2 linked regions of the Homo sapiens genome follow. The protein of the gene in region 1 purifies or fractionates together with the protein of each later gene. This does not show direct contact. Each region holds a gene or a part of one and is shown in the gene's direction. Other genes may lie near its edges.

Region 1 (3,500 bases):
AAGATTAAGGACAGTGATTGGCGGTACCTGCCCCAGGTCCTGTCTCTTGGCTACACACCCCGTTTCCTCAACTTTTGTTCACGGACAGTGGTTTCCAGGCCACTGCGTCACGGTTGGACAGTGATGTGTCACAGGCCATGGGCTTCTGGAGCTGGCCGAGCACTCTGGGCATAGCTCAGTAGGCGGGCAGGGTGGCTGCCACCTGTGTGGGTCAGGCCTTGCTTCTGTTGCTGAAGCTCTGTGGTAACGGGCAGGAAAGCTGACGTAGGATGGGAGATGCTCCATTTGGGAAGGCGAGTGTATGCCAATTGCAATCTTTCTCAAGGGGCCCACGTTTTTAATGATGTATGTGAGTTACTGCACGTGTGTATGTTGTGTCTGTTTGTGGAAGAAAACACCAGCATTGATGGCTTGTAGCTGGTCGTGTCCATGAATGATTGCTGGCCTTGCCTATGGTCTGGATCAGTCCTTGTTCTCCATCTTGTTTTTCCACTGTGCAGTTGGTTTTGTAGATGGCTGCCGTCTGCTTTAAGGACGTGAGGTGTTGTAAACCAACCCTCGGCAATTAATTTGGGGGAAGAGCAGAAGAAATGAAGCCCACATCCCTTACTAGCTTACCAGTTGTTAACAGGCTGGTGCAATCATTAGTTTTATAAAAATCACTTTTGCAAATAAAGTTTTGCAGAGGGTTTCCCCACTCTTCCCTCATCCCCTTCATGGACGTCTGAGAATCCAGGCCCTCCTCTCCTCCTCCTGGATGTAACTCAGGCGTGTCCGTGGCCTGCAGGCACCAGCGGGCCAGCAGCACTGGCAGAAGACAAGTCTGAGGCCCAAGGCCCAGTGCAGATTCTGACTGTGGGCCAGTCAGACCACGCCCAGGACGCAGGGGAGACGGCAGCTGGTGGGGGCGAACGGCCCAGCGGGCAGGATCTCCGTGCCACGATGCAGAGGAAGGGTGAGCCCCATGGGGACCCAGTGATACCCCCAAAACTCAGTCCCAGGTTCTCAGATGCACCTTTCTCTGGGAGCATGGCCTTCCTGTGTCCAAACCCCTCCCTGGCAATGGTGGGTGAGGGTGGGGCACACTTCGGAGACAAATGAGAAACTCTTAGGCAGGGCCCCTGCTAAGGCCCCAGGGAGGCCCTGATTTGGGGGCAGATTTCCTTTTCCTTTTGCTCCTTAGAAAAAGCTCCTTTTGCAAGAAGTTTCCCATATGTTTGCTGAGCTACTGGGAGCAGGGCCAGGATACCAAGAGACGGGGTAGATCCTCCGTGGAAACCTGCTGTTCAGTTTTCCCACCACAAGCCCTGCCCTAGGGAGCCCCTGGTGCAGGGTGGCAGAGGGAAGAAGCCTGGCAGTGCCACACATTGTGAGGAATCTAATCAAGGATGGCTTCCTGTACAAAGGACTTTGAGACAACTTGAGGATGGGGATGGCATTCCCAGGGAATGGCAGGCGGGAGGACAGCTGAGATAGAAGCTCAGGGCAAAGATGAGGAGTCAGTGGGTCCCCTCCACATTGGGCTGAGGAAGGAGCTGAGGCCTGTGCCCTGGCAGATTCCGTGGTCTATGCCAGCCAAGGCCTCTAATAGGCCTGAGGTCAGAAATGGAGATTCCCAGTTCAAGGTGAGCTCAGTGCAGGCCTTGATACACAAGAGACAGTGGTAGGGTGGCTGCTAGGTAGTGGGGTAATGTAGGGACTGAGCTGAAACTGGGTGGTGGGGATATATCCTGAGGATTGTGGCCAGCCCCGGCTCATGTGTGTACCTGAGAGAATATCCTTTTATATCTGGACATGTGTGGGAATATATGTGTGAATGGGAGTCTATATGTGTAGATATGGCTAAGAGTGTGTGCATAAGTTTGTGGGGGTACAGGTGAGTCAGTGTCTGAACATGAGTATGTGACCATGTGTATTTCAGGGGCAGCGTAGACTTCTCCTCCTTCATCCCTTCTTCTTCTCTCCTTGGCCCAGGCATCTCCAGCAGCATGAGCTTTGACGAGGATGAGGAGGATGAGGAGGAGAATAGCTCCAGCTCCTCCCAGCTAAATAGTAACACCCGCCCCAGCTCTGCTACTAGCAGGAAGTCCGTCAGGGTGAGTGAGTGAGTCTGCATCCACAGCAGTTTTTGGAGGACTGCTCATCCGTTAGAGGTGGACTGCATGTGAAGAGATGGACTCGTATGCCTTTAGGAGCTTCTCTGCTGGCCTCTTATGTCCCTCTACCTTGCCTCCTAACCTCTTCAGCTAGGCCAGCAGGGTGATGTATGGGGGGAGATGCAGTTGGACAGGATGACCTCTGAGGACCTCCCGTATCTCCCATCTCCACCTCTAGGAACTGTTGAGGGCAGGGCTGGGAAGATAGCTTCTGACCCCAGGCCCAGGCTGGCCAGGCCCCAATCCCAGGATCCTTCCCTCTCTCCCACCGCCACGTTAGGAGGCAGATTTGGATCCCAGACCACCAATTTGGGCTGCTTAGGGTCCTTGGGGCTCAGGCACCTATTCTGCATCCCCATAGGAGGCAGCCTCAGCCCCTAGCCCAACAGCTCCAGAGCAACCAGTGGACGTTGAGGTCCAGGATCTTGAGGAGTTTGCACTGAGGCCGGCCCCCCAGGGTATCACCATCAAATGCCGCATCACTCGGGACAAGAAAGGGATGGACCGGGGCATGTACCCCACCTACTTTCTGCACCTGGACCGTGAGGATGGGAAGAAGGTAAGGTTGGTCTGGGCATGTTATCATCTAGGCTTTACAGCCCTTTGAAATCCTAGGGGCTGAAATGTGACTGGAAGTCTCATATCTACCACTGACCTCTCAGTTCCTCAAAGAAACTGCCTTCGTGTCTGGTCTGTGCACATCTTTGTGTTTTCCAGTGCATTTGTGTGTGTGCACATATGTGCGTTTGGGAGCTGACGCAACGGAGAGAGTCTGTGTGAGTGGCTCTCATGACTGTGTGCAGACCAGAGGCTGAGTCTGGAATATGACCTCATTCCACTCCCCAAGGTGTTCCTCCTGGCGGGAAGGAAGAGAAAGAAGAGTAAAACTTCCAATTACCTCATCTCTGTGGACCCAACAGACTTGTCTCGAGGAGGGGACAGCTATATCGGGAAACTGCGGTACTAGCATTCCCCCAGGAAGCAGGCGGGAGTGGGAGGGAGGGGCAGGGGCAAGCTGTCTGTAGAGGGCCTGAATCTTCCTGAAGGAGATCTAGGCCAGGGATGGATACTCTCCCAGGATCCTCTCTGATAATCACATCCAACTGGAGGCCTATGTCTATGCCAGCCTAGAGCCAGACTTGGAGATGGGAATCACACACCCGACCCCAAGCTGTTCCCAGGAGGTGGGTGCAGGCCCACCAAGAGTGATGGATCCAACCCCAGGGTGTCACTGATAACGCAGGCCACCATGGAAGAGTTGCCTTGGCTCCATGGTCAATGCCAAGGGACAGGGCTGAGAGTGAGCTCTTGAGGGAAGAGACACACAGCAATCTTGGGGGTGGG
Region 2 (3,500 bases), on another chromosome or scaffold:
GGAGTGCAGTGGTGCGATCTTGGCTCACTGCAACCTCTGCTTCCTGGATTCAAGTGATTCTCATGCCTCAGCCTCCCAAGTAGCTGGGACTACAGGTGCATGCCACCATGCCTGGCTAATTTTTATATATTTTGTAGAGACGAGGCTTCACTATGTTGCCCATGCTGGTCTTGAACTCCTGGGCTCAAGCAATCCAACCACTTCAGCCTCCCAAAGTGCTGGGATTACAGGTGTGAGCCACCATGTCTGGCCCTTTTATTCACTTTTTAATCCAATAATTAGAATTTTTTCCTATAGAGTTGTTTGAGCTCCTTATATAGTCTGGATTTTGTTTTGTTTTGTTTTTGAGATGGAGTCTCATTCTGTCACCCAGGCTGGAGTGCTATGGGGCAATCCCAGCTCACTGCAACCTCTGCCTCCCAGGTTCAAGCGATTCTTGTGCCTCAGCCTCCCAAGTAGCTGGGATGCCAGGTGTGCACCACCATGCCTGGCTGTTTGTTTTGTATTTTTAGTAGAGATGGGGTTTAGCCATGTTGGCCAGGCTGGTCTCGAACTCCTGACCTCAGGTGATCTACCTGCCTCAGCCTCCCAGAGTGCTGGGATTACAGACGTGAGCCACCGCGCTGGCCTGTATTCTGGTTATTAATCCCTTGTCAGGTGGATAGTTTGCCCAGTCAGTGGATTGTCTCTTCACTTTGTTGTTTCCTTTGCTGTGCAGAAGCTTTTTAACTTGATGTGCTCCCATTTGTCCATTTTTGCTTTGGTTACCTTTGCTTGTGGGATATTAAGAAATTTTGCCCAGATCTATGACCTGGAGTTTTCTCAGTGTTTTCTTGTAGTTTTGTAGTTGGAGGTCTTAGTTTTTTAATCCATTTTGGTTTGATTTTTGTATATAGCACAAGATAGGGGTCTAGTTTCATTCTTCTGCATATGGAGATCAAGTTTTTCCAGCACCATTTATTGAAGAGACTGTCTTTTCCCTAGTGTATGTTCGTGGCACGTTTGTCGAAAATGAGTTCACTGTACGTGTGTGGAATTGTTTCTGGGTTCTCTATTCTGTTCCATTGGTCTCTGTGTCTGTTCTTATGCCATTACTATAGTGTTGTGGTTGCTATAGGTCCATAGTATAATTTGAAGTTAGGTAATGTGATTCCTCTAGGTTTGTTTTGTGTTTTTTTTGTTGTTTTTTTTTGTTTGTTTTGCTGTTTTGTTTGGGATAGCTTTAGCTATCCTAGATCTTTTGTGGTTTCATAACAATTTTAGGATTTTTTTTTCTATTTCTGTGAAGAATGTCATTGGTATTTTTCTTTTTTTTATATTTATATTTGTCATTGGTATTTTGATAGGGATAGCTTTTCTTTTGATGCTTCTGTCCCCATTAATCACAGTTATGTATCTAAAATCTGTATCATTGGTCTGCAAAGTTGTGCTCACCTCAGTAAAATTTTTGAACATGTATTCCCCAATGTTATTTATAAATATTTTATTTTGAGACAAAGGTTCATTCTGTTTCTCAGGCTGGAATGCAGTGGTGCAGTTTTGGCTCACTGCAACCTCTGTCTCCTGGATTCAAGCAATTCTTGTGCCTCAGCCTCCCAAGTAGCTGGGATTCCAGGCATGCACCACCACACCCGGCTAATTTTTGTATTTTTAGTAGAGATGGGGTTTCACCACATTGGCCAGGCTGGTCTCAAACTCCCAACCTGAGGTGATTCACCCGCCTTAGCCTCCCAAAGTGCTGGGATTACAGGCTATAAATGTTATTATACATACACACTTCCACTAATAATACAATGTGTATTATAACTAATTGTGATGTAGTGAAACAAAAGTCTGCTTCTTAGCTGAGTATGATTTTGTCTTGAAGGGCTGTCATACATAACTGAGGGATTGTAGAGAAGTGCATTGTTGATAGGTGGTCTCAAGTACTTTAATTTTTCATTATGCTCCATTAGTTATGGAGCGGCTTTTTTTCAAGTCCAGTTAGTGAGTTTTCATCTCCAGTTGTCAAACAGGTGTTCCTACAAACCTTTCAGAAGAAATTAATTTTTTCTATTTTCACCAATTGAGTTTGTAACCCTCTGAAAAATGTAGATTTGGAAGAGTTTTAAATGCATTACAATATTCTGTTTCCACATTTTTAAAGTGTGTGATTGCAATTTTTATAGGAGACATGTTTTCAGCAGTGCCATATGTAGATATAATCAGTTTTCTTTTCACAACCTTCACAGAACAAGTTTTTTTTTTTTCAAAAAACAATTGTCTTCCTCAAACTATTAAAATGTTGCTTTTGTTTGGAAGACACAGATTAAGCGTATTTATTTTTAAAAATGTCTACTGGGTTACATAAAAAGATTGGCAAATTTGGAATATTTTTCTTTTTGTGAAAAGTGCATGGATCATCTTTAGGTTCTACAGCTTTTGCTCTGTCGCCCAGGCTGGAGTGCAGTGGCGCCATCTCGGCTCACTGCAACCTCCACCTCCTGGGTTCAAGCAATTCTTGTGCCTCAGCCTCCTGAGTAACTGGGATTACAGGCATACACCACTCTGCCCGGCTAATTTTTTGTGTTTTTAGTAGAGACGGGGTTTCACGACGTTTGTCAGGCTGGTCTTGATCTCCTGACGTCGGGTGATCTGCCCACCTCGACCTCTCAAAGTGCTGGGATTACAGGCATGAGCCACCTTGCCAGCCTGGTTCTACAACTTTTAAAAATACTAACCCATTAGATAACCAGCATACTTTTATAACTACTCTCTATCTTTGGCAGAATATTCAGTGTCATCTATGAATCCGCTTAACTAAGCAAACATAAACAGTTAAATAGTCGTCTAAATAAACAAGTGAGACCACCACTTGCAAGCCCTATCTGCCGTATTCCTCCCTTGAGATATCTGGCTCACTGTATCTGACACACAACTATTTACTTTATAGACAGAGTCAAGGCACCAATGTCAGTGTACAAGAAAAGTAGTAATGATGTTAAATTTTTTAAGGAAAAAGAGATATGTGGAAGTTTTGAATATTTTCTTCCTACACTTCAGCGGATACCCTTGAAGTGTAAACACCCCACTCTAGAGAACAACATGGAACATCGCTGTAGCCCTTTTTTTTTTTAAGATGGAGTCTTGCTCTGTTGCCCAGGCTGGAGTGCAGTGGCGTGATCTCGGCTCACTGCAAGTTCCGCCTCCTGGGTTCACACCATTCTCCTGCCTCAGCCTCCCGAGTAGCTGGGACTATAGGCGCCCGCTAACATGCCTGGCTAATTTTCCATGTGCCCCTACACAGTTTTACGTAATCATTCTAACATAACTTACAGATATAACACTTTAAAACCCTCTATGACTTTCACTATCAAATTAATGCACCATCCTGGGCTATTGTGTGGTAGTACAGGTTGATGTCATGTGTCATCTCCAATGAGAGATCACTGGAGGAAGAGATTTTTACCTATTCTGTCACATGGAATCTAGCATGATTTTAGAAAATGTAAACGAATGAA

What was found.
Region 2: the proteins of TUB (region 1) and MAK16 purify together in Homo sapiens (affinity purification with mass spectrometry; one large-scale study listed by BioGRID and IntAct). This does not show direct contact.

What each region holds. Positions count from the first base shown.
Region 1 is NC_000011.10:8,094,711-8,098,210, forward strand, and holds part of TUB (tubby protein homolog), read left to right. Parts: exon of another isoform or gene 1-787; coding exon 788-955; exon of another isoform or gene 956-1,974; coding exon 1,975-2,096; exon of another isoform or gene 2,097-2,517; coding exon 2,518-2,715; exon of another isoform or gene 2,716-3,003; coding exon 3,004-3,116; exon of another isoform or gene 3,117-3,500. UniProt on the Homo sapiens protein: Functions in signal transduction from heterotrimeric G protein-coupled receptors. Binds to membranes containing phosphatidylinositol 4,5-bisphosphate. Can bind DNA (in vitro). May contribute to the regulation of transcription in the nucleus.
Region 2 is NC_000008.11:33,491,682-33,495,181, forward strand, and holds part of MAK16 (protein MAK16 homolog), read left to right. Parts: intron 1-3,500.